2 linked regions of the Homo sapiens genome follow. The protein of the gene in region 1 binds, or shares a complex with, the protein of each later gene. Each region holds a gene or a part of one and is shown on either strand. Other genes may lie near its edges. The genes, in order: CHP2 and SLC9A1. A codon is read from its position in the direction of its gene.

Evidence for each region.
Region 2: the proteins of CHP2 (region 1) and SLC9A1 are in contact, whole or in part, in a crystal structure (PDB 2BEC), measured with the Homo sapiens proteins. Residues at the interface, in NP_071380.1 of Homo sapiens: Arg30 (codon at 6,754), Arg34 (codon at 6,766), Leu38 (codon at 6,778), Leu51 (codon at 6,930), Ile54 (codon at 6,939), Ala56 (codon at 6,945), Leu57 (codon at 6,948), Asn60 (codon at 6,957), Pro61 (codon at 6,960), Leu62 (codon at 6,963), Ile66 (codon at 6,975), Phe70 (codon at 6,987), Phe83 (codon at 7,161), Leu87 (codon at 7,173), Phe90 (codon at 7,182), Tyr118 (codon at 7,266), Ala119 (codon at 7,463), Leu122 (codon at 7,472), Tyr123 (codon at 7,475), Met136 (codon at 7,514), Val139 (codon at 8,274), Leu140 (codon at 8,277), Met143 (codon at 8,286), Ile156 (codon at 8,325), Arg159 (codon at 8,334), Thr160 (codon at 8,337), Glu163 (codon at 8,346), Ala164 (codon at 8,349), Phe177 (codon at 8,388), Ser180 (codon at 8,603); in NP_003038.2 of Homo sapiens: Ser517, Ile518, Asn519, Glu520, Ile522, His523, Thr524, Gln525, Phe526, Leu527, Asp528, His529, Leu530, Leu531, Thr532, Gly533, Ile534, Glu535, Asp536, Ile537, Cys538, Gly539, His540.

Annotation. Positions count from the first base shown.
Region 1 is NC_000016.10:23,748,928-23,759,529, forward strand, and holds CHP2 (calcineurin B homologous protein 2), read left to right. Parts: upstream 1-6,098; 5' UTR 6,099-6,122; coding exon 6,123-6,189; intron 6,190-6,733; coding exon 6,734-6,806; intron 6,807-6,919; coding exon 6,920-7,000; intron 7,001-7,135; coding exon 7,136-7,266; intron 7,267-7,460; coding exon 7,461-7,522; intron 7,523-8,273; coding exon 8,274-8,396; intron 8,397-8,602; coding exon 8,603-8,656; 3' UTR 8,657-10,008; downstream 10,009-10,602. UniProt on the Homo sapiens protein: Functions as an integral cofactor in cell pH regulation by controlling plasma membrane-type Na(+)/H(+) exchange activity.
Region 2 is NC_000001.11:27,151,627-27,162,367, reverse strand, and holds the start of SLC9A1 (sodium/hydrogen exchanger 1), read left to right. Parts: upstream 1-7,242; 5' UTR 7,243-8,033; coding exon 8,034-8,385; intron 8,386-10,741. UniProt on the Homo sapiens protein: Electroneutral Na(+) /H(+) antiporter that extrudes Na(+) in exchange for external protons driven by the inward sodium ion chemical gradient, protecting cells from acidification that occurs from metabolism.

The sequences.
Region 1 (10,602 bases):
TCCTTCCCTCCCTCCCTCCATCCTTCCTTCCTTCCCTCCCTCCCTCTCTCTTTTTCTCTCTTTCTTTCTTTCTTTTTCTTTCTTTCTTTCTTTCTTTCTTTCTTTCTTTCTTTCTTTCTTTCTTTCTTTCTTTCTTTCTTTCCCTTCCTTCCTTCCTTCCTTCCTTCCTTCCTTCCTTCCTTCCTTCCTTCCTTCCTTCCTTCCTTCCTTCTTTCCTTTCTTTCACACGGGAAAGGGTCTAGCTCTGTCACCCAGGCTGGAGTGCAGTGCTGCGATCTCGGCTCACTGCAACTTCCACCTCCGGGGCTCAAGAATTCTCCCGCCTCAGCCTCCTGAGTAGCTGGGACTACAGGCTGTGCACCATCATGCCCAGCTAATTTTTGTATTTTTTGTAGAGATAGAGTTTTGCCATGTTGCCTGGGCTGGTCTTGAACTCCTGGGCTCAAGTGATCCACCTGCCTCAGCCTCCCAAAGTGCCGCGATTACAGGTGTGAGCCACTACACAAGGCCTCTTGTCTCTGTGTGTGTGTGTGTGTTTTTTAATTGAGATGGAATCTCACTCTGTTTCCCAGGCTGGGGTGCAGTGGTGCGATCTCGGCTCACTGCAACCTCCGCCTCCTGGGTTCAAGCAATTCTCCTGCCTCAGCTTCCTGAGTAGCTGGGATTACACACACCCACAACCACACCTGGCTAGTTGTTATATTTTTAGTACAGACGGGGTTTCACCATGTTGGCCAGGCTGGTCTTGAACTCCTGACCTCATGATCCACCTGCATCGGCCTCCCAAAGTTCTGGATTACCACGCCTGGCCCTTTATTCCTGTTTCTTACCTCTCTATTCCTGGTAGAGGAATTTGTATTTCCCTGATGACTAATGATGTTGATGTCACCCACCCTCATTACTTTTCGTCCCAGAGCTTTCCTGGCTATTCTGTTTTTAATTTTTATTTTTTTGTTTACTTTTTTCTTTCAAATTTTTTTTTTGTTTTATAGTTTGTTTTTAAGAAGACAAAAAAAGATCCCTCTGTAGGTTCAGCTACAGAAATCTTGTTACAACTTTTATTTCCTCTGGAGAGTCAAGTTTGACTGTCTTCTCTGTGCTGTTTTCTTTTAAAAAAGTTTTAATGAGATATAATTCACATACCACACAATTTGCCCATTTAAAGCATGCAATGCAATAGATTTTATTACATTCACAGATATGTGCAACCAAACTATCACCAGAGTCGATTGTAGAACATTTTCATCACCTCAACAAGAAACCCTGGGACCAGGCGCAGTGGCTCACACCTGTAATCCCAGCACTTTGGGAAGCAGAGGCGGGTGGATCGCTTGAGCCCAGGACAGCCTGGGGAACATAGTGAGATCCCATCTCTACAAGAAAACAAACAACAACAACAACAAAAAATTAGCCAGTTGAGATGGCATGTGCCTATAGTCCTAGCTACTAAGGAGGCTGAGGTGGGAGGATCATCTTAGCCCAGGAAGTTGAGGCTGTGGTGAGCCATGATCACTCCACTGCACTGCATCCTGGGTGATAGGAGACCCTGTCTTAAGAAAAAAAAGAAAAAATAAGAAACCCTGTACACTTTAGCTATTATCCCTGACTCCCACCTACCTCCCTTAGCCCTCGGCAATCACTAACCTACTTTTTGTCTCTACGGGTTTGCCTATTCTTAACATTTCATGTAAGTGCAATCATATAATACGTGGTCTTTTGTGACTGGTTTATTTTACTTAGCATAGAGTTTTCAAGGTTCATCCATTTTGTGGCATATATAATACTTCATTACTTTTTATGGCCAAATGATATTCCGTTGTATCAATATACCATGTTTTACTTATCCATTCATCAGTCAAACATTTGGCTTATTTCCAATTTTTGGCTGTTATGAATAGTGTCGCTATGAATATTCACTACAGGTTTTTGTTTGAGCTCCTATTTTCTTTCTTTCTTTCTTTCTTTCTTTCTTTCTTTCTTTCTTTCTTTCTTTCTTTCTTTCTTTCTTTCTTTTTTTTTTTTGAGCCGGAGTCTCGTTCTGTTGCCCAGGTTGGAGTGCAGTGGTGCAATCTCGGCTCACTGCAACCTCTGCCTCCCAGGTTCAAGTGGTTCTCCTGCTTCAACCTCCCAAGTAGCTGGGATTACAGATGCGTGCCACCATGCTTGGCTAATTTTTTTGTATTTTTAGTAGAGATGGGGTTTCATTATGTTGGCCAGGCTGGTCTTGAACTCCTGACCTCAAGTGATCTGCCCACCTCTACCTCCCAGAGGGCTGGGATTACAGGTGTGAGCCACTGTGCCTGGCCTGAGCCCCTATTTTCAATTCTTTTGGGTGTATACCTAGGAGCAGAATTGCTGGGTCACATGGTAATTTTGTTTAGTGTATTGAGAAACTTTCAAACTGTTTTCCACAGTAACTGAACCATTTTACTTTTCCATCAGCAATGAATGAGGCTTCCAACTTTTTCATAGCCTCACTAAGACTTGTTTTTGTTTGTTTTAATTCCAGCCATCTTAGTGGGTATGAAGTGATATCTCATTGTGGTTGGTTTGTATTTCCCTGATGACGAATGATGTGGGGAATCTTTTCATGTACTTATTGGCTAAACATATATGTTTTTTTGGAGAAATGTCTATTCAAGTCCTTTGCCCGTTTAAAAAGTTGGGTCATTTATCTTTTTATTATTGAGTGCTAATTGTTCTGTATTTTCCTGACTATTCCTGGATGTTCATTCTTCTAGTTGAACCTTCACCAAGAATGACTAGCGGCCAGGCGTGGTGGCTCATGCCTGTAATCCCATCACTTTGGGAGGCCGAAGTGGGCAGATCACTTGAGGTCAGGAGTTCGAGACCAGCCTGGCCAACATGGTGAAACCCCATCTCTACTAAAAATACAAAAATTAGCCAGGTGTGGTGGTGCATGCCTGTAATCCCAGCTACTAGGGAGGCTGAGGCAGGAGAATTGCTTAAGCCCAGGAGGCAGAGGTTGCAGTGATCTGAGATGGCGCCACTGCACTCCAGCCTGGGCAACAGAGTAAGACTCTGTCTCAAAAAATTAAATAAGAAAAAAAAAAAAAGAATGACTAGCAACTTTTACATAGCTGAAAAGCAAAAACCAAATATTCCTCCTGACTCTAGTCTAACAGATTCTGCAGATAAAATTTTCCCCAAAGCATCTTCCCGCTTAAATGACCTGAAAAAACTGTGAAGTTGATTTAAGTCTCACTTGTGTACATGAAACAGAAATGAGTTCTAGCATAGCCTGCTCTCTCTCTCTTTCTTTTTTTTTCTTTTTGAGATGGAGTCTTGCTCTGTTACCCAGGCTGGAGTGCAGTGGTGTGATCTTGGCTCACTGCCACACCTGCCTCCCAGGTTCAAGTGATTCTCCTGCCTCAGCCTCCCAAATAGTTGGGATTACAGGCGCCTGCCACCACACCCAGCTAATTTTTTGTATTTTTAGTAGAGACGGGGTTTCACTGTGTTAGCCAGGATAGTCTCAATCTCCTGACCTCATGGTCTGCCCGCCTCAGTCTCCCAAAGGGCTGGCATTATAGGTGTGAGCCACTGTGCCTGGTCCAGCCCTCTCTTAAAAGCTTGTGTATGATGTGTGCATGGGAGTTCCTAATTACTCTCCGGCCTAATTTACTTTGGTGTAGCACTGACTCCAATATTAAGGCTGGAGAAGCCCTTTCCAAGATCAGCATCCCAAGCTGGCCTGCGGTGCTTATCACAGCTTCTTAGGGCTCTCATCTCCTCCTGGGTTCAGAACTGAACCCAAACTACATGCACAGCCTGACTCACAGCTGTGGGTTGCAGTGATTGCTGGGCTTCATTAGGGAGGAGTGTGGTTTCCCGCATGCTTAGTCTTTGGGGGGAGTCTGAAAGAGAATCAAGCATTCCTTATGCCAGTTGCTTAATCCTTGGGGGTATCTGAAAGAAGCAAGCACTTCTTAGATCAATATTTTCAAGACTTATCTGATGCAGGCCTCTGCCTGGGGCTGGAGGATAGACTGTTTCTTCAGCTTCTCTCTCTCCAGGGTGGATATGAACTTGAGCCCTTGCAATGAACTGCTTGCATGTTTTCCCCCCTGGGAAATTTGTGTATGTATGTGCAATTATGATGGGGGAAACGGTTTAAAGATACTTTCAAAAGTGGACACTTCTAGTGTTTGTCCCTTGACAAATGAGTTTCTCGACCTGTTTTTTTTTCATTATCAACGCCTCCCCTAGTCTTTTTAATTTCCCCACCCTCACCCCTACCCCATGAAATTTTATTTTCTTTCTTTTTTTTTTTTTGAGACCAAGTTTCGATCTTTTTGCCCAAGATGGTGTGCAATGGCGCGATCTAGGCTCACCTCAATCTCCACCTCCCGGGTTCAAGCGATTCTCCTGCCTCAGCCTCCCGAGTAGCTGGAATTACAGGCATGCACCACCACGCCCAGCTAATTTTGTATTTTTAGTAGAGACTGGGTTTCTCCATGTTGGTCAGTCTGGTCTCAAACTCCTGACCTCAGGTGATCCGCCCGTCTCGACCTCCCAAAGTGCTGGGATTACAGGCATAAGCCACCGCGCCCGGCCTCTTTTCTTTTCAAGACAGGGTCTCACTCTGTCACCCAGGCTGGAGTGTAATGGCGTGATCATGGCTCCCTGCAGCCTCAACCTCCTGGGCTCAAGTGATCCTCCTGTCTCAGACTCCCAAGTAGCTGAGACTACAGGCATGTGCCACGACACCTGGTTAATTTTTTTTTTTTGTATTCTTTTGTAGAGATGGGGTCTCACTATGTTGCCTAGGCTGGTCTTGAGCTCCTGGGCTCAAGCAATCCTCCTGCCTCTACCTCCCAAAGTGCTGGGATTACAGGCATGAGCCTCCACGTCTGCCCTGAAATTTCAATATCACAGCTATACTGTATATCTATTTATGTGCTGTATGTATGCTGTGCTTTGTACATAAAAAATATGTTTTATTTTTTGCCCCGTTGGGGTGAGATAGAGACCGCACTGAGAATGCACGCTTTACATAATTAGTTCACAACTTGCCCCCGGCAGCCTCCACCACGTAAAATTAGAAGAAAGCAGCCCAGCAGGGCCTACAAGGAATGTGTGAACGGATGCACGTAAAGTGCTTAGCAAAGCGTGGTAAACAAGAGCCCTTGTTGTCATTCTTGCTTTAAGCCTAGTCCCAGTGATGTCTGTAACCCTCTCTTGGGCCAAGGAGTCCCATGGCTCTGGAGGGCTGTTCAGAGGACTAAGTCATTCCCAGTCTGGAGCTCTACGGGATCAGTAGGTACCTAAGGGAGTGAATTGGGCTTGGAGGGACTGTGGCCAGAAGACAGCTCTGGGCCTGGTGGTGATAGAACTTCTGATTTCTCAGGAAAAGCCAAGAATGTGGATTTTGGGTTAAATCTCCTGAATTTTAAGCATTGGCTCAATTAAACAACAATAAGGCAATGTGAACCGAACAAAAGGGATGAAACCAAGATTTACTGACTTTCCCAGAGTCACGGGCACGGCTGGGATTCCAACAAGGACTCCCAAACCAGTGCTCTTTCCACTTAACCTAACGCACACCCTTCATCTCGCCGCCCCTCCCCACTTCCCCGTCTTTGGGAGTTCTTCGATGCCTCTTCCCCCCTCCCCCCAGGATTCCCTCCCCATAGGCCACCCGCCTTCCAGCAGGGCGTGGTCTCTACAGAGGAGGTCAGGTCTCCCAGGCTTCCTCAGCGTCGACGCCGGGGAGCGCCCTGGGGTTGGGAGCGCCCGGGGCCCGCGAAGGAGGAGGTGGCTCAGGTGTCAGGGCGCACCGTGGGAACCGGCCCCGGGGGAGGCGTGGAAACGCGGGGCCTGGGACTCGACCAGCCTCTCCCGTGCGGATCGCAAAATCTCGGAGCTGAAACAGCCCGTTGTTCGCAGCCTCCCTCTGACCCGCCACCCTGCACATTGTTTTCCATTCGCCCGGGTCGCGGGTGGGAGGAGAGGCACGCCGGGGTTCTGGAGCTTGGCCGCGCGCCAGGCTTGTGGCCTTCGTCCCCCTGGGGCCACTGGGGCGGCCACGCCTCTCCGGCGGGAGGAGAGAACGCGTGGGTCCGGGTGGCTGCTCCGGCCCTTCCGCCTCCAGCTCGGCCATGGGGTCGCGCAGCTCCCACGCCGCGGTCATTCCCGACGGGGACAGTATTCGGCGAGAGACCGGCTGTGAGTGCGCCCGCGTCGGCGGCTGCGGAGGGGACGGGGCGAACCCAGGCGTCTGGGGCTAGGGAAGGGGTTGGGTTGAAGGATGGACGAACTTACAAGTCTGGGGTCCGGGGCTCCCCGGAGCTGGAAGACCAAGGCCCCTGTGCCTGGGATCGCTGGGTTAGGGGCGGGTTAACCTAGGGGTCCCAGCCTCCAAGTCTGGGGAGGATCCGGGTTCACGGGGTCGGAGTCCAGAGGAATCCAGGCACCCAGGTGTCCTCCAGCCCGGCTCGAAGCTGAAGGCAGAGCTGACGGCGGTTGGAAGGGATGGCTTTGGTTCTTTGGTTTTCGGGAGGTTGCGAGCCGCCCGGGTCTTGAACCTGGATCTTCGCGGGGTCGTGTCACTCTCCCTCCGCCCCGGCCAGCTCAACCCCTGATTCCCCGGGATGATCGCCCCTTCCAGCCAGCCCCCGCTGTTCTGGCCCATCTTCCTGGCCTGTTGGGGCGGGTTTCTGGAGCTGGCCCTGCAGAGTCACACACCCCCACCCCACTCTCCTTCCCGCAGTCTCCCAAGCCAGCCTGCTCCGCCTGCACCACCGGTTCCGGGCACTGGACAGGAATAAGAAGGGCTACCTGAGGTGAGGGGGAGCCGGCCTCATAACTTCTGGCCTCTGTCTCTCTGACTCCATGTCCCTCTTTGACCCTCCGTCTGGCATCTCTGCCTTACCCTCTTTGAAATTTGGCTTTGCAGCCGCATGGATCTCCAGCAGATAGGGGCGCTCGCCGTGAACCCCCTGGGAGACCGAATTATAGAAAGCTTCTTCCCCGATGGGTGAGGCTTGCTGGGCGTGGGGAGGTGAAGGCGGGAAAACCGGTGTGTGAGTGGGTGGGAGGGGAGGTTAGAGACGGAGGCAAAGTGATGGCCAAGGTGACCACCACCTCTTTCCATTCTGTCCCGTCTCCCCAGGAGCCAGCGAGTGGATTTCCCAGGCTTTGTCAGGGTCTTGGCTCATTTTCGCCCTGTAGAAGATGAGGACACAGAAACCCAAGACCCCAAGAAACCTGAACCTCTCAACAGCAGAAGGAACAAACTTCACTGTGAGTTTGTGAGGACCTGCACAAGTGAGAATGCAGATGTACCCACACCAGGGACAGGCTCCAGGGATCTCCCACTCCCTTCCTGAGGGCATTGACAACCTCCCCCCTCCTCCAAGGTGGGGGGAAGGAAGGTGGCTGCTGGAAGAGAGCCAGGGAAGACCTACCTTCCTTTCCCCCTCCCACCCTCTCCCCAGATGCATTTCAGCTCTATGACCTGGATCGCGATGGGAAGATCTCCAGGCATGAGATGCTGCAGGTTGGCAGAAAGCGAGAGCAAGAGATGTGATGTGTGAAGGATGGGATGGTTAAATGCAATGGTGTGAGAGATGGGGTGGGATGATTGGGGAACTGGGGCGCAGATAATTGGGGTATTGGTTGGGAAATGGGAATGGGTGCAGTTAGAGTGTGGGTTTGTTGGGAGTCGGAGTGGGGAGCAGTTGACTATGAGGTTGGGAATAGATCAGTGATTCTCAACTGGGGGTGATTTTGCTCCCTGAGTGAATATCTGGCAATATCTGGAGATGCTTTTTGTTGTCACAATGGGGGAGAGAGTGTGCTACTGGCATCTAGTGGGTAGAGGTCAGGAATGTGGCTATATATCATGCAATACCCAGGAGAGCCTCTTCCAACAAGGAGTTACCTGGCTCCAAATGTCAACAGTGCCAAGATTGAGAAACTCTGGAACAGATGTGATGGAATGAGGATGGAATTAGAAACCCTTAGTGGCTAAGGTGGAGAATGGTGTGGAGGATGGATGGAGGTTGGGTGATAAAGTTGGGTAATGAGTTTGAGCATATTTTGAGGGTAGTGCAGGATGGTGAGGGAGAGATAGGAGATTGGTTGTTGAAGCAGTAGGGAAAATTATTGGGGGATATGGTGAAAAATGGATGAAGGATGGATTATAAAATTAGCAATAACTTTTGGGATGAGGTGGGCAAGGTTTAGGAGATGGGGAGTTGCAGCCTTCGTGCCCCCTCCTTATGGCTGCCTCTTCACTCATCTCTCAGGTTCTCCGTCTGATGGTTGGGGTACAGGTGACAGAAGAGCAGCTGGAGAACATCGCTGACCGCACGGTGCAGGAGGCTGATGAAGATGGGGATGGGGCTGTGTCCTTCGTGGAGTTCACCAAGGTCAGAGTGCCCTTGGGGATTGGGGAGTTGAGATCAGGAGTTCTGGGGCAGACAGACTTGGGAAACGTTCAACGGAGGAGGGCGGAAAGATAGGGGTTGCCTGGGAATGATGGGGTCTCTGGAATGGGTAGAACCCTGGGGGAGGAGGTTGGGAGCATGGAGAGCTGAGAGTCAAGCCTCTTGCCTGCCATTTGTTTTTCCCTCAGTCCTTAGAGAAGATGGACGTTGAGCAAAAAATGAGCATCCGGATCCTGAAGTGACTCCGTTTGTGCCTTGGGCTTGCTCCTGCAACCAGTATCTCCTTGGAATTCATCCAAAGCCCCCATGGACGCATGGACGCAGGGCGACAATAAACTGTATTTTCGTTTCTAACTCTATTTAGGGCCAAGAGAAGAAAGCTGGAAGGATGTGTACTAAAGTCTAGCTCAGCAGTCCCCAACCTTTTTGGCATCAGGGACAGTTTTTCCACGGATGGGTGACAGGGGATGGTTTTGGGATGATTCAAGTGCATTACATTTATTGTGCACTTTATTTCTATTATGATTACATTGTAATATATAATGAAATAATTATACAACTCACCATAATGTAGAATCAGCAGGAGCCCTGAGCTTGTTTTCCTGCAATTAGACGGTCCCATATGGGAGTGATGGGAGACAGTGACAGATCATCAGGCATTAGATTCTCATAAGGAGTGCACAATCTAGATCCTTTGGTGTGCAGTTCACAGTAGGATTTGGGCTCCTATGATAATCTAATGCCACTGCTGATCTGACAGGAGGCAGAGCTCAGGCGGTAATGCAAGCAATGGGGAGTGGCTGTAAATATAGATGAAGCTTCAGCTCGCCTGCCGCTCACCTTGTGCTGTGCAGCCCGGTTCCTAACAGACCACAGACCCCACACCAGGTCTATCTCATTTGGTCTCAGAGCTGTGAATCAGCCAGCAATATTTTAGTTGCAAATCACTGAAAACCCAACTCAAAGTGACTTAAGTCAGAAAGAAATTTTATGAATTCAGGTAATTAAAAAGTCCAGAAGTATCTGCCTTTAGGCACAGCTGGATCCAAGGGCACAAATGATGTCATCAGGCTCCAGTTATTCTCCATCTCCCAGCTCAGCTTTTTCTGTCTGTAAGCCTGATTTTCAGGAAGGCTCTTTCCTAGTGATGGAGATGACCACCATCAGCTCCAGGCTTCTATCCTGCTAACCCAGTAACCCAGTGGGAAGAGATTTACTTATTCCAATAATTCCAAGTGGAGAGTGTCATTGACCCGTTTGGGGTCTCATCTCTACTTCTAGGGGAATGAAACACTCTGAGTGGCCAGGCCTGTGTCATGTGCTAATTCCTAGAGCCAGGGAAATAAGGTCTGAGGATTCAGGATGGGGTGAAAGGTGGTTGCTTAAAGGAAAATGAAATACAATTAGCAGAATAAGGGGAAACGAGTGGTCTGCTCTGCTCGGGCAAAACAAGAGATGCCCATTACTGTGAGGGACCCTTGAAGTCTGGACTCTTAAATGGGTTTTTGCTGATTTCCTGGGTGCATGCTAGGATGATGGGGCTTGATGCAGTAGGGAAGAGACGATGTAAAAATAATAAACAATATATACCTTCCTAGAGTGTGAATGCATTCGAAGATTCTAAGAGTAAGCTTGTTTTCATGGTAAGATGTTCAAACATTGATATAAGATGGAATGGAGCAGGAAGTCCCATAAAACTATGAGACTCTATGTCTGCAGCAGAGCTCTCTGGTTGCACCTGTGGGAGACACTGTAATTGCCCTGCTGTTTTTCTCCCTCCCAGAGCTGGTCTTTGGTTGTCTTGTATCATCAACACATGAGAACCAGTTGTGCTCATAACATCTCAACTCTGCTTTCAATGATATGTTAGCAGCTTGAAACTGGCTATAGCAGGAATATTTACACCACAGACATTGGTAACTGCAACAGGTTAAGGCTTTTTCCTCCTGGAAAGCCAGTTGTTAAACATTTATCTGCACACTACCTGCTAGACATTTCCCATTACTTTGCATGCCAATGGTTTCTTTCCTTTTTTCTCCCTTCTTTCTTTCTTTCTTTCTTTCTTTCTTTCTTTCTTTCTTTTTCTTTCTTTCTTTTCTTATCTTTCTTTCCTTTTTTTTTTTTTTTTTTTTTGAGACAGGGTCTAGCTTTGTCACCCAGGCTGGAGTGCAGTGGCAGTCTTGGCTCA
Region 2 (10,741 bases), on another chromosome or scaffold:
AGGAGGTCAGGTAACCAGCCATGTGGATATCTGGGGAAGAGTGTTCCAGGCAGAAGGAATAGCAAGTGCAAAGACCCTGAGGCAGAAGTGTGTCTGCCAGTGTTTGAGAAATAGAAGGAGGCAGTGGTGAAGTGAGTGCCGGGGAGACTGGAAGAAGGCTTTGCTGGGCTGTGACATTATGATGAAAGAAGGAGCGGCTGAGTACAATGGCTTACCCCTGTAATCCCAATACTTTGGGAGGCCCAGGCAAGAGAATCAATCAAGACCAGGGGTTTGAGACCAGCCTGGGCAATATAGTAAGACCCTATCCCTACCAAAAATATTTTTAAAAATTAGTCAGGTGTGGTGGCATGTACCTGTAGTCCAAGCTGCTCGGGAGGGCGAGGCTGGAGGATCGGTTGAGCCCAGGAGTTTGAGGTTGCTGTGAGCTATGATTGCACCATTGTACTCTAGCCTAGGTGACAGCAAGACTCTGTCTCAAAAAAAAAAAAAAACAAAAGAAGGAAATGAACCCAGTCACTGCGTGCTGACTGTGTACCAGGAACTATGCTTGACATACAGTGGCCTTTTCATCCTTACAATAAACCTTACAAAGCAAGTAATGTGACTCCACCCAGCTTTCATATACATGAACACAGCGAGAGACAGAAACAAGGTGTGACTTGCTCATAATGCGCAGCTAATAGGGGCTGAGCAGATTCTTTCCTAGGGCCATGCATTTTGTGCCATAAAACTCCAGGCACTTTTAGTGAAAGGATTCAAGGAGGGGATTGGGGAGCAGACATGGCTTAAGCAGGGGGAGATGCCACCCAGGGTCCAGGCTTCCTGAGGCTGTCCTGGATCTGCAGGGGAAGGGTCTGCAGAGACCTGGCCTCTCCGAGTCAAAAGCAGTGTGGGCCTGGAATGGTTAAAAAATGAGGACTTGGCCGGGTGTGGTAGCTCACGCCTGTAATCCCAGCACTTTTAGAGGCCGAAGCAGGTGGATCACCTGAGGTCAAGAGTTCGAGACCAGCCTGGCCAACATGGTGAAACCCTGTGTCTACAAAAAATACAAAAAATTAACTGGGCATGGTGGCAGGCGCCTGTAATCCCAGCTACTCGGGAGGCTGAGGCAGCAGAATCGCTTGAACCCAGGAGGCAGAGGTTGTAGTGAGCTGAGATCGCGCCATTGCACTGCAGCCTGGGCAACAAGAGTGAAACTCCATCTTAAAAAAACAAAAAACAAAAAACAAAAAATGACTTGCTCAAACATGGTTACAAATATTGCTATGTATTTTAACTGATTTTTTTTTTTCTTTTTTGAGATGAGAGTCTTGCTCTGTCGCCCAGGCTGGAGTGCAGTGGCGCGATCTCAGCTCACTGCAAGCTCCGCCTCCCGGGTTCACGCCATTCTCCTGCCTCAGCCTCCCGAGTAGCTGGGACTACAGGCGCCCGCCACCACGCCCGGCTAATTTTATGTATTTTTAGTAGAGACGGGGTTTCACCGTGTTAGCCAGAATGGTCTTGATCTCCTGACCTCGTGATCCGCCCACCTCAGCCTCCCAAAGTGCTGGGATTACAGGCGTGAGCCACCGCGCCTGGCCTTGACTGATTATTTTTAAGAAGACAAGGCTTTTAAGGCCGAAGCGGGCGGATCACGAGGTCAGGAGATCGAGACTATCCTGGCTAACACGGTGAAACCCCATCTCTACTAAAAATACAAAAAATTAGCCGGGCGTGGTGGCAGGTGCCTGTAGTCCCAGCTACTCGGGAGGCTGAGGCAGGAGAATGGCGTGAACCCGGGAGGCGGAGCTTGCAGTGAGCTGAGATTGCACCACTGAACTACAGCCAGGTCGACAGAGCGAGACTCAGTCTCAAAAAAAAAAAAAAAAAAAAAGAAGAGGAAGAAGAAGATAAGGCTTTTAACATACAATACACATCAATGTGATTTATTTACAAATATTAAATTCATAGCAGCTGGTCTGATGGTGGGACCCATCTCACGGATGTGAGGGTCTGTTTTCCAGCCTGTCAATTTTCTCTGTGACTGAAGGCAGAACTTCATGTGGTTCCCAACATCAAAAGTCTACTCTTGAGGTCCTCGGTGCATGTAAATAAATAGAATGATGGTAAATATATGTGGTACTTGCTGGGGGCAGTGGTAAATGCTTCGCATACATTGGCTAATATCTTCATGAGAGCCCCATGAGGTTGACACTATTGTTGTCCCCCCTTATGGAGGAAGAAGCTGTAGAACAGGCACTGATTTGCCCAGGGTCTCATGACTAGTGAGCGGTGGTGCCAGAGCACTGAAAGGAGACCATGTGGCTACCCATGTTCGGCAGTCCCAGCATTTAACTATCCATTATTCTACACTGCCTGCCCAGGCTGGGCCTTGGCCATCGGCTCTCCCATGTGGTTTCTCCCAAGGCCTGTTTCCTGATATTGTTCTGTTGTTATAACCTTCTCCAGGCCGTGGAGGATCTCAGGGCTGGCATTTCCTGGTTGTCCTGGGATCTACCACGTCCCAGACTGGCACCCAAAGACTCACTGAGGCCTGAGTGAGGGAGAATTAGAGAGTGGGGAGCACACCAGTGAACGTTGCCTTCAAGACTGGAAAGAACAGTAGGTCTTGGGCTTCTGGCCCCAGGGCACCTGTGGAAAGTCACTCCACCAGCCCCATCCTTTCCCTCTTTTCTTCTTTTTACACTGAACCTGTGATGTTTTAAAAGGGTGCTGGACTTAGGTGTTAGAAACCTGACTTAAGTCTTGGATCTGCTTCTTTTTTTAAATTTTAATTTAATTTTATTGGCTCACTGCAACCTCTGCCTCCCAGGTTCAAGTGATTCTCCTGCCTCAACCTCCTGAGTAGCTGGGATTACAGGTGCCTGCCACCACGCCCAGCTAATTTTTGTATTTTCAGTAGAGATGGGGTTTCACCATGTTGCCCAGGCTGGTCTTGAACCTCTGACTTCAAATGATCTGCCCGGCTCGGCCTCCTAAAGTGCTGGGATTACAGGTGTAAGCCACTGTGCCAGGCATGGATCTGCATCTTAATAGATGTGTGACCTTGGGCAAATAGCTTTATGTCTCTGGGCCTTTGTCTTTTCACCTGTAAAATGGGAATGAGAATAATAGCTACTCTTTGGCCAGATGCGGTGACTCACGCCTGTAATCCTAGCACTTTGGGAGGCCAAGGCAGGTGGATTACCTGAAGTCAGGAGTTCCTGACCAGCCTGGTCAACGTGGTGAAACCCCATCTCTACCAAAAATATAAAAATTAGCTGGGTGTGGTAGCAGCCGCTTGTAATCCCAGGTACTCGGGAGGCTGAGGCAGGAGAATCACTTGAACCTGAGAGGTGGAGATTGCAAGTGAGCCAAGATCGCCACTGCACTCCAGCCTGGGTGACAAGAGTGAAACTCTGTCTCAAAAGAAAAAAATAGAATAATAGGTACTGTTTTTTCTGAGACAGGGTCTCACTCTGTCACCCAGGCTGGAGTGCAGTGGTGTGATCTCAGCTCACTGCAAGCTCTGCCTCCTGGGTTCAAGTGATTCTCGTGCCTCAGCCTCCCAAGTAGCTGGGACTACAGGCACATGCCACCACACCCAGCTAATTTTTGCATTTTTAGTAGATACGGGGTTTCGCTGTGTTGGCCAGGCTGGTCACAAACTCTTGACCTCAGGTGATCCACCTGCCTCGACCTCCCAAAGTGCTGGGGTTACAGGCATGAGCCACCGCACCCAGCCTAGCATTTGGATCATTGATAAACCTGGGGCACTTGGTTGTGAACTCTAAAGGGCTGAACAATTGTGAGGCATTATTGTTATTATTCTGATCCTTGCTCGAAATGCTCTTTGGTTACTTTCATTATAGCTGATGTTCTCCTTTCATCTGCTCCCAGATGACACAAGTCCCCTGCCCTTCTCTGAAGTCTCTTTTGTCATTTCCCAGGTGGCTGGAATTTGTGCCTGGAGAATGTGAGGTACAGAGAACTCAGTTTAGGCATGGGATTATAAAAAAAGAGAGAGAGAGAGAGAACTCAGTTTAATGTTGCCACCTTCAGTTACTATCATATCACTTTATTAATTATTTTATTTTTATATTCATTTATTTATTTTGAGACAGAGTCTCCCTCTGTCACCCAGGGTGGAGTGCAGTGGCACAATCTCAGCTCACTGCAACCTCCGTCTCCTGGGTTCAGGGGATTCTCCCACCTCAGCCTCCCAAGTAGCTGGGACTATAGGTATGCTCCACCACGCCCAGCTAATTTTTGTATTTTTTGGTAGAGACAGGGTTTTGCCATGTTAGCCAGGCTGGTCTTGAACTCCTGACCTCAAGTGATCTGCCTGCCTCAGCCTCCCACAGTGCTGGAATTACAGGCGTGAACCACTGTGCCTGGCCTAATTAATTTTTAGAGATGGGTCTCACTATGTTTCCCAGGCTGGAGTGCAGTGGCTATTTCACAAGCACAATCATAGTGCATTACAGCCTCAAATTCCTGGGTTCAAGTGATTCTTCTGCCTCAGCCTCCCAAGTAGCTGGGACTACAGGTGCATGCCACTGCACCTGGATATTATTATTTTATTTTACTTATTTTTTTTAAAGACAGGGTCTCCCTATGTTGCCTAGGTTGGTCTTAAACTCCTGGCCTCAACTGATACTCCCATCTCAGGCTCCTGAGTTGCGGGGATTACAGGCATGAGCCACTGCTGCTAGCTTATTATTATTTTAATATATTTTTCCATGGAAGGATAGCATACCTAGAAAAAGGTGCACACATCTTGAGTCTTCAGTGAGTTATCACGAAACAACTACGTCGCTGTAACCTTTGTAGCTATCACCCAGTAAAGAAATAGAACATTACCAGCATTCTAGAAGCCCTCATTATGTCCACTTTATGCCCCCTCCCAATTCCTACCACCTCCTTCCTCCCTCTGGCTTATCTCTGTGTTGCCAGAGCCCAGCACAAAGCCCTGTCAAGAGGCCCAGTAAACATTTGTTAAACTAAATTGAATCTCAAGTACTTGTGATGTGACCTTGAGCTAGACACTTTGACTGTTTTGGCCTTAATGTACTCTTCTGCAAAACAGGGACAGCATTTCAGTGATTTCTATACCTCCCAACCCTAGTTGTATATCAGAGCCTTTGAAAAAAATACTTTGGCACTACCCTGAAGTAATTGAATCTAAATCTCTGACGGTGGGTCCCCGAAAATGATATTTTACAAAAGATGATGATGATGATGATTACTATGATTGACAGGGTCTCCCTTTGTTGCCCAGGCTAGAGTGCTGTGGTGGATCATAGTTCACTGTAGTCTCAAACTCCTAGGTTCAAATGATACTCCTGCCTCAGCCTCCCAAGCAGCTAGGACTACCAAGCACAGCTAATTTTATCAGACAATGGTATTTATTTTTATTTATTTATTTTTTTTTGAGACAGAGTCTCGCTCTGTTGCCCAGGCTGGAGTACAGTGGTGCAATCTTGACTTACTGCAACCTCCGCCTCCTGGGTTCAAGTGATTCTCTTGCCTCAGCCTCCTGACTAGCTGGGATTACAGGCATGTGCCACCACGCCCGGCTAATTTTTTTTTTTTTTTTTTTTTTTTGAGACGGAGTCTCGTTCTGTCGCCCAGGCGGGAGTGCTGTGGCGCGATCTCCGCTCACTGCAAGCTCCGCCTTCCGGGTTCACGCCATTCTCCTGCCTCAGCCTCCCGAGTAGCTGGGACTACAGGCGCCCGCCACTGCGCCCGGCTAATTTTTTGTATTTTTAGTAGAGACCGGGTTTCACCGTGGTCTCGATCTCCTGACCTCGTGATCCGCCCGCCTCGGCCTCCCAAAGTGCTGGGATTACAGGCGTCAGCCACTACGCCCGGCCTAGACAATGGTATTTTAAAAAAGCTTTCCAGTGATTCCATTGTACAGCCATGATCCCTTGAACCTCACCAATTTCAACCAAACTATAGGTTCAAATTTAAGTTCCACTACTTAAAGCATGCCACTGTTGTGGGTTGAATTGTGTCCCGGCAAAAGAAGTTGAAGTCCTAATGCCCAGTGCCTATGAAGATGGACTAATTAGGATGCAGTCTTTGAAGATGTTCAGGTTAAGATGAGGTAATTACGTTGGATTTCTAATCCAATGACTGGTGTCCTTATAAAAAGGGGAAATCTGGCTGGGGGTTGTGGCTTACCCCTGTAATCCCAGCACTTTGGGAGGCCGAGGCGGGTGGATCACCTGAGGTCAGGAGTTCGAGACCAGCCTGACCAACATGGTGAAACCCCATCTCTACTAAAAATACAAAAATTAGCTGGACGTGGTGGTGGGTGCCAGTAATCCCAGCTACTCTGGAGGCTGAGGCAGGAGAATCGCTTGAATCCAGGAGGCAGAGGTTGCATTGAGCTGAGATGGCGCCACCGCACTCCAGCCTGGGCAACAAGAGCCAGACTCTATCTCAAAAAAAATAAAAATAAAAATAAAGTGTGGGCGGGGAATCTGGACGCAGAGACAGAGACACCAGGAGAACTCCATGGAATACCAGATAGTCCTAACAAACCACTGGAAGGTAGGAGAAAGGCATGGGACAGATTCTCCCTCATAGCTCTCAGCTGAAACCAACCCTGCCAACACCTAGATCCGACCTCCAGCCTCCAGAACTGTGAGACAATCAATTTCTGTTGTTGCAGCCACCCAGTTTGGGGTGATACTTTGTTACGGCAGCCCTAGTAAGCAATACAACTACTTGCATAGTAGCCAGGGGACTCTCTTCACCTGTTTCCTCATCTGTAAAAGTGGAATTGTAATAATGTGCCAGGGTGCATTCCAAATAGTTTACACGGATTGTCTCAGTCATTACATCATCCCTCTGACATAGTCACTATTACTGTCTCTACTTAACAGATGAGAAAGTTGTGAAACAGGTTAAGTAACTTGCTCAAGGTCACACGGTAACTAAATACATAAACTAATAATACATTCTTCACAGGATTATTCGAAAGCCCTTATGAGACTGCAGATGTGGACGTGAAATCGTTTTGTAAGTAGTCGGCATTTTACTCGCGTTAGTGAGGTTCTCTGTATATTCAGGACTTTTTTTTTTTTTTTTTTTTGTCATCTCTGACTCTCCTTCCTCTTCCTACGCGATACTTCTTTCCCTCGGCGACAGGGGCCGCTGCGCTGGGCGGGTGCCGACGGTCTCTCTAGCCCGCCGCACCGGCTGCTCGCTGGTGCCTATAAGTGACAGCGCCGGGCTCAGCTAGGCTTCAGTCTGCTGCCGCCGGGGCCGGGGCTAGGGTTAGTTCTGGAGCTGGACCAGGAGGAGCTGCAGCTGGGCCGGGGCGGAGCGCCGCGTCGCGCCAGGGCCGCGAGGAGGGGCGTGTTGCTGCTGGCCCACCGCGAGCCGCCCCCAGCCCGCGCCGAGGCGCCTTCCCGCCAGGCCGCCTGCCTTCCGCCTCTTTCCATTTCCCCGGAATCTCAGCCCGGCGCGCCTGGACCCCTGCCCCTCTCTGGGTGGAGAAGCTCCCGGCCGCTTCCCGGTTTCACTCCTTCTCAGCCTGGGCTCCCAGCCCCCTCTCTCCTTTTCCTGGACTGGCTCTCACCCCCTTCGGTCCCCTTCCTTTAGCTCAGGCTCCCTACCCCTTCCTTTAGCCCACAGCCCAGAGTCCCAGCTCCTCAGTCACTTTCCTCAGCCAAAGGTCCCAGCCTTCCTTCTTCCTTTCCTTTGCACTATCCCTATCCTGCCCCTTCCTCTATCCCTAGGGCTCAGTTTCCCACATCCGTCCTCCCCCTTCCCAGGCCCGGAGTTCCAGACCTTTTGGTCTCCTTTCGTGGTCGTTCCTGGGTCCTTGCCCCCTTTCCCCACTTTGGAGTTCCAGATTGCAAACCCAGCCTCCCTCCACCCCCAGAAAATTGCTTCCATGGAAATGCCTCTCTAAAACATGAACTTTTCCTAGAGACTACGCCAGTCTCTCTTCCCACTTGCTGACCCTTTGCTACCTATGTGCCCGGTTTTACTCTCATTTGGGTAAGGTCGAGGCTGGCTCTGGAAGCAGCACCATGGTTCTGCGGTCTGGCATCTGTGGCCTCTCTCCACATCGGATCTTCCCTTCCTTACTCGTGGTGGTTGCTTTGGTGGGGCTGCTGCCTGTTCTCAGGAGCCATGGCCTCCAGCTCAGCCCAACTGCCAGCACCATTCGAAGCTCAGAGCCACCACGAGAACGCTCGATTGGGGATGTCACCACCGCTCCACCGGAGGTCACCCCAGAGAGCCGCCCTGTTAATCATTCCGTCACTGATCATGGCATGAAGCCGCGCAAGGCCTTTCCAGTCCTGGGCATCGACTACACACACGTGCGCACCCCCTTCGAGATCTCCCTCTGGATCCTTCTGGCCTGCCTCATGAAGATAGGTAAGTCCCGTTTGCTCCGATGCTGCGGCCGCCACCAGACTGGTGAGCTTCTTGCCTCATCTCGCACCATTTGAGGCTGTCCAGGAGTAAGGATCTGAACTACCCCCATAAAGTAGGCAGTCTCCATCCTGCCACCTTGGTCCTTCTCAGGCTCCAGTTCTGTGGCTTCTGATCTGTGATCTGAGGCTTCCCAAGATTGGAGCCAGCACTGTGCACAGAAGAGAGCAGGATTAGAGAATGGGATGCCTCTGATCCTAGGTCCCTTCAGTAAGGCTTCCACGACTGGCAAGTCTCCTCTGGCTGGGCCAGACCCCCAGGGGAGCCAGGCACCCCGCTGTGTGTGAGACAGAAAGGAGTGTCTTCTGGCGAGTGGCACATTCTGCTCTGTCAACAGCAACCAGTGCAATTTATGACAGGCTTCACTGGAGCGTGTTCCAGGATGGAGTATATTTCTACTTGGCCTGCTTGAGGAGTTTAAGCATAGTGGAGACCTGGGCACAGGAAACTTACAAGTGTGGTGGAACACAGGGGATCCCCATATTCCCACCTTTCCTTCATCTCCAGAATGTTATCTGTCAGCTTTGCTTGTCCAGGCTAGTTAGGAGCCCCTGAGTCAATTTCCGGCCCAGGAATGCCATACTTTATAGAATCTGTGGGACAAGGGGCCCTGGAAATTTCTGAAGTCTGTTTTGGAAGTGGAGGGAGAGTAGAGGAGGTTGAGGCTTGGTCTGACCCCAGCTCACCCCCAGGTCGCTGCCTGGCTGTGTCTCAGGGTGCTGTCTGGCCTGCTGCTCAATCAAGTAGATGAGGTAGATGGGGGAGCCTAGGGATGTTCAGGCCTGAAGAGACTTTGAAACCTTCTTTTGGGGAGAAGGAAACAGACAACTTATTTGCTCTCAGAGTATTGGTCTCCCTGCTAGGCCTGAGCACTCTGTTCTGCTGAGTGATTGGGGGAGCTTACTGGAGCCTACATTGCCCAGAAGTCCCTGAAAGTGGTGTTCAGGGGGACTTTGACAACTGCCTTTGCATTTTCAGCTTGCCCCCAGCTGGCTGTGGAAGGCATGAGGTCCTGGGACTCTGCTGTCCCCTCTGCCTGAGATTTGGGTTTGGGAATTTGGCAGGAAACCTTCCAGCTCTCCCAAGGACATGCAGGAGCTGAGCGGTGCTGCCGGGCTGGTGTGAGGCAGGCTCTGGGACATGCAGCGGGAGGGAAGTGGTGCCTCTAATTTGACAGATCCAGGAGCTGGGTTCCTGGTGCAGGGCTCTTGTGCCAAGCTGGTCACAGTAGCAGAGCCTTACATGGAACTAAGCCATCAGCACCTATACCTTGATGGCAGTTAGCTTCCTGGAGAGAAATCAAGGACTGGACAAGGGGAACCATGTGTACTGATTCTGACATAAATGCATGACCTTGAATAGCTGAGGCCTTTTTCTGCAGGTCTCCCTCACCTGTGAAATGGTTAAGACTCTCAATTTGACCACACCAATTGAGTCATGAAATGTCGTCTGATTTGCTGTAAGAAGCTGAAGTGACAGTGATGTCATTTGACTGTGTGAGACCAGGAGGAGACCTCACAAGTGCAATCTATAAATTGCCTCCTGTCCCCGATCCCCTCACCTGCCCACCACACCTGGCATTACATTAGGGCATTCAGGGCTGGCAGACACACTTTGAGTGTCAGTGGCTGCTGGTGGGATGACAGCATGACTGCAGAGACCCCACTCTAGGCAGTCAGAAGTTTGTCCCTGCAGGCCTGGTATCTCTAGTGCTAATGAGGTCAGCTTGGCCTGGCCTGCTTTGTCACCACCCAAGTGCTGTGCCCGGGACCCTGGGCAGCTGGAGAGCAGAGATGGTGTCATGGCAACAATATCAGTCTAGAAGTCAGGAAAACCTGGCTTCTCTTCCTACCTCCCTCTGTCCTTGGACCAGTCACGCCTCCCTACCCATCAGTTGATCTTTGTGGTCCCTTCCAGGTGTGATATTTCTGTCATTCCACTGACTCTGGAAACTCTGGCAAGTCACTCAGCCTTGGACCTCAGTTTTCCCATTGTAAAATGATGAGGCTGGATGTGGTCTCCTTTCCAAAAGTCTGTTTCTGCCTTGGAAAGGCATTTTTCTGCCTCTGAAAACAGGAGTTCTAGCATCTGGCCATGAGTGGAGAGAAAGGTGGTCTAAAGATCTGAAGAGTCCCTGTTCAGGCCTCAAAAATGAAAGCCCATTTTTCCCAGCTTCACCTTTGCAGTGTGGAATTCAGCCACCACTCTGCCACTTAGCAGCATCTCTGAGCCTCAGTTTCCTCATGTATAAAAGGGGAACTAAGCTGGGCGCAGTGGCTCACGCCTGTAATCCCAGCAC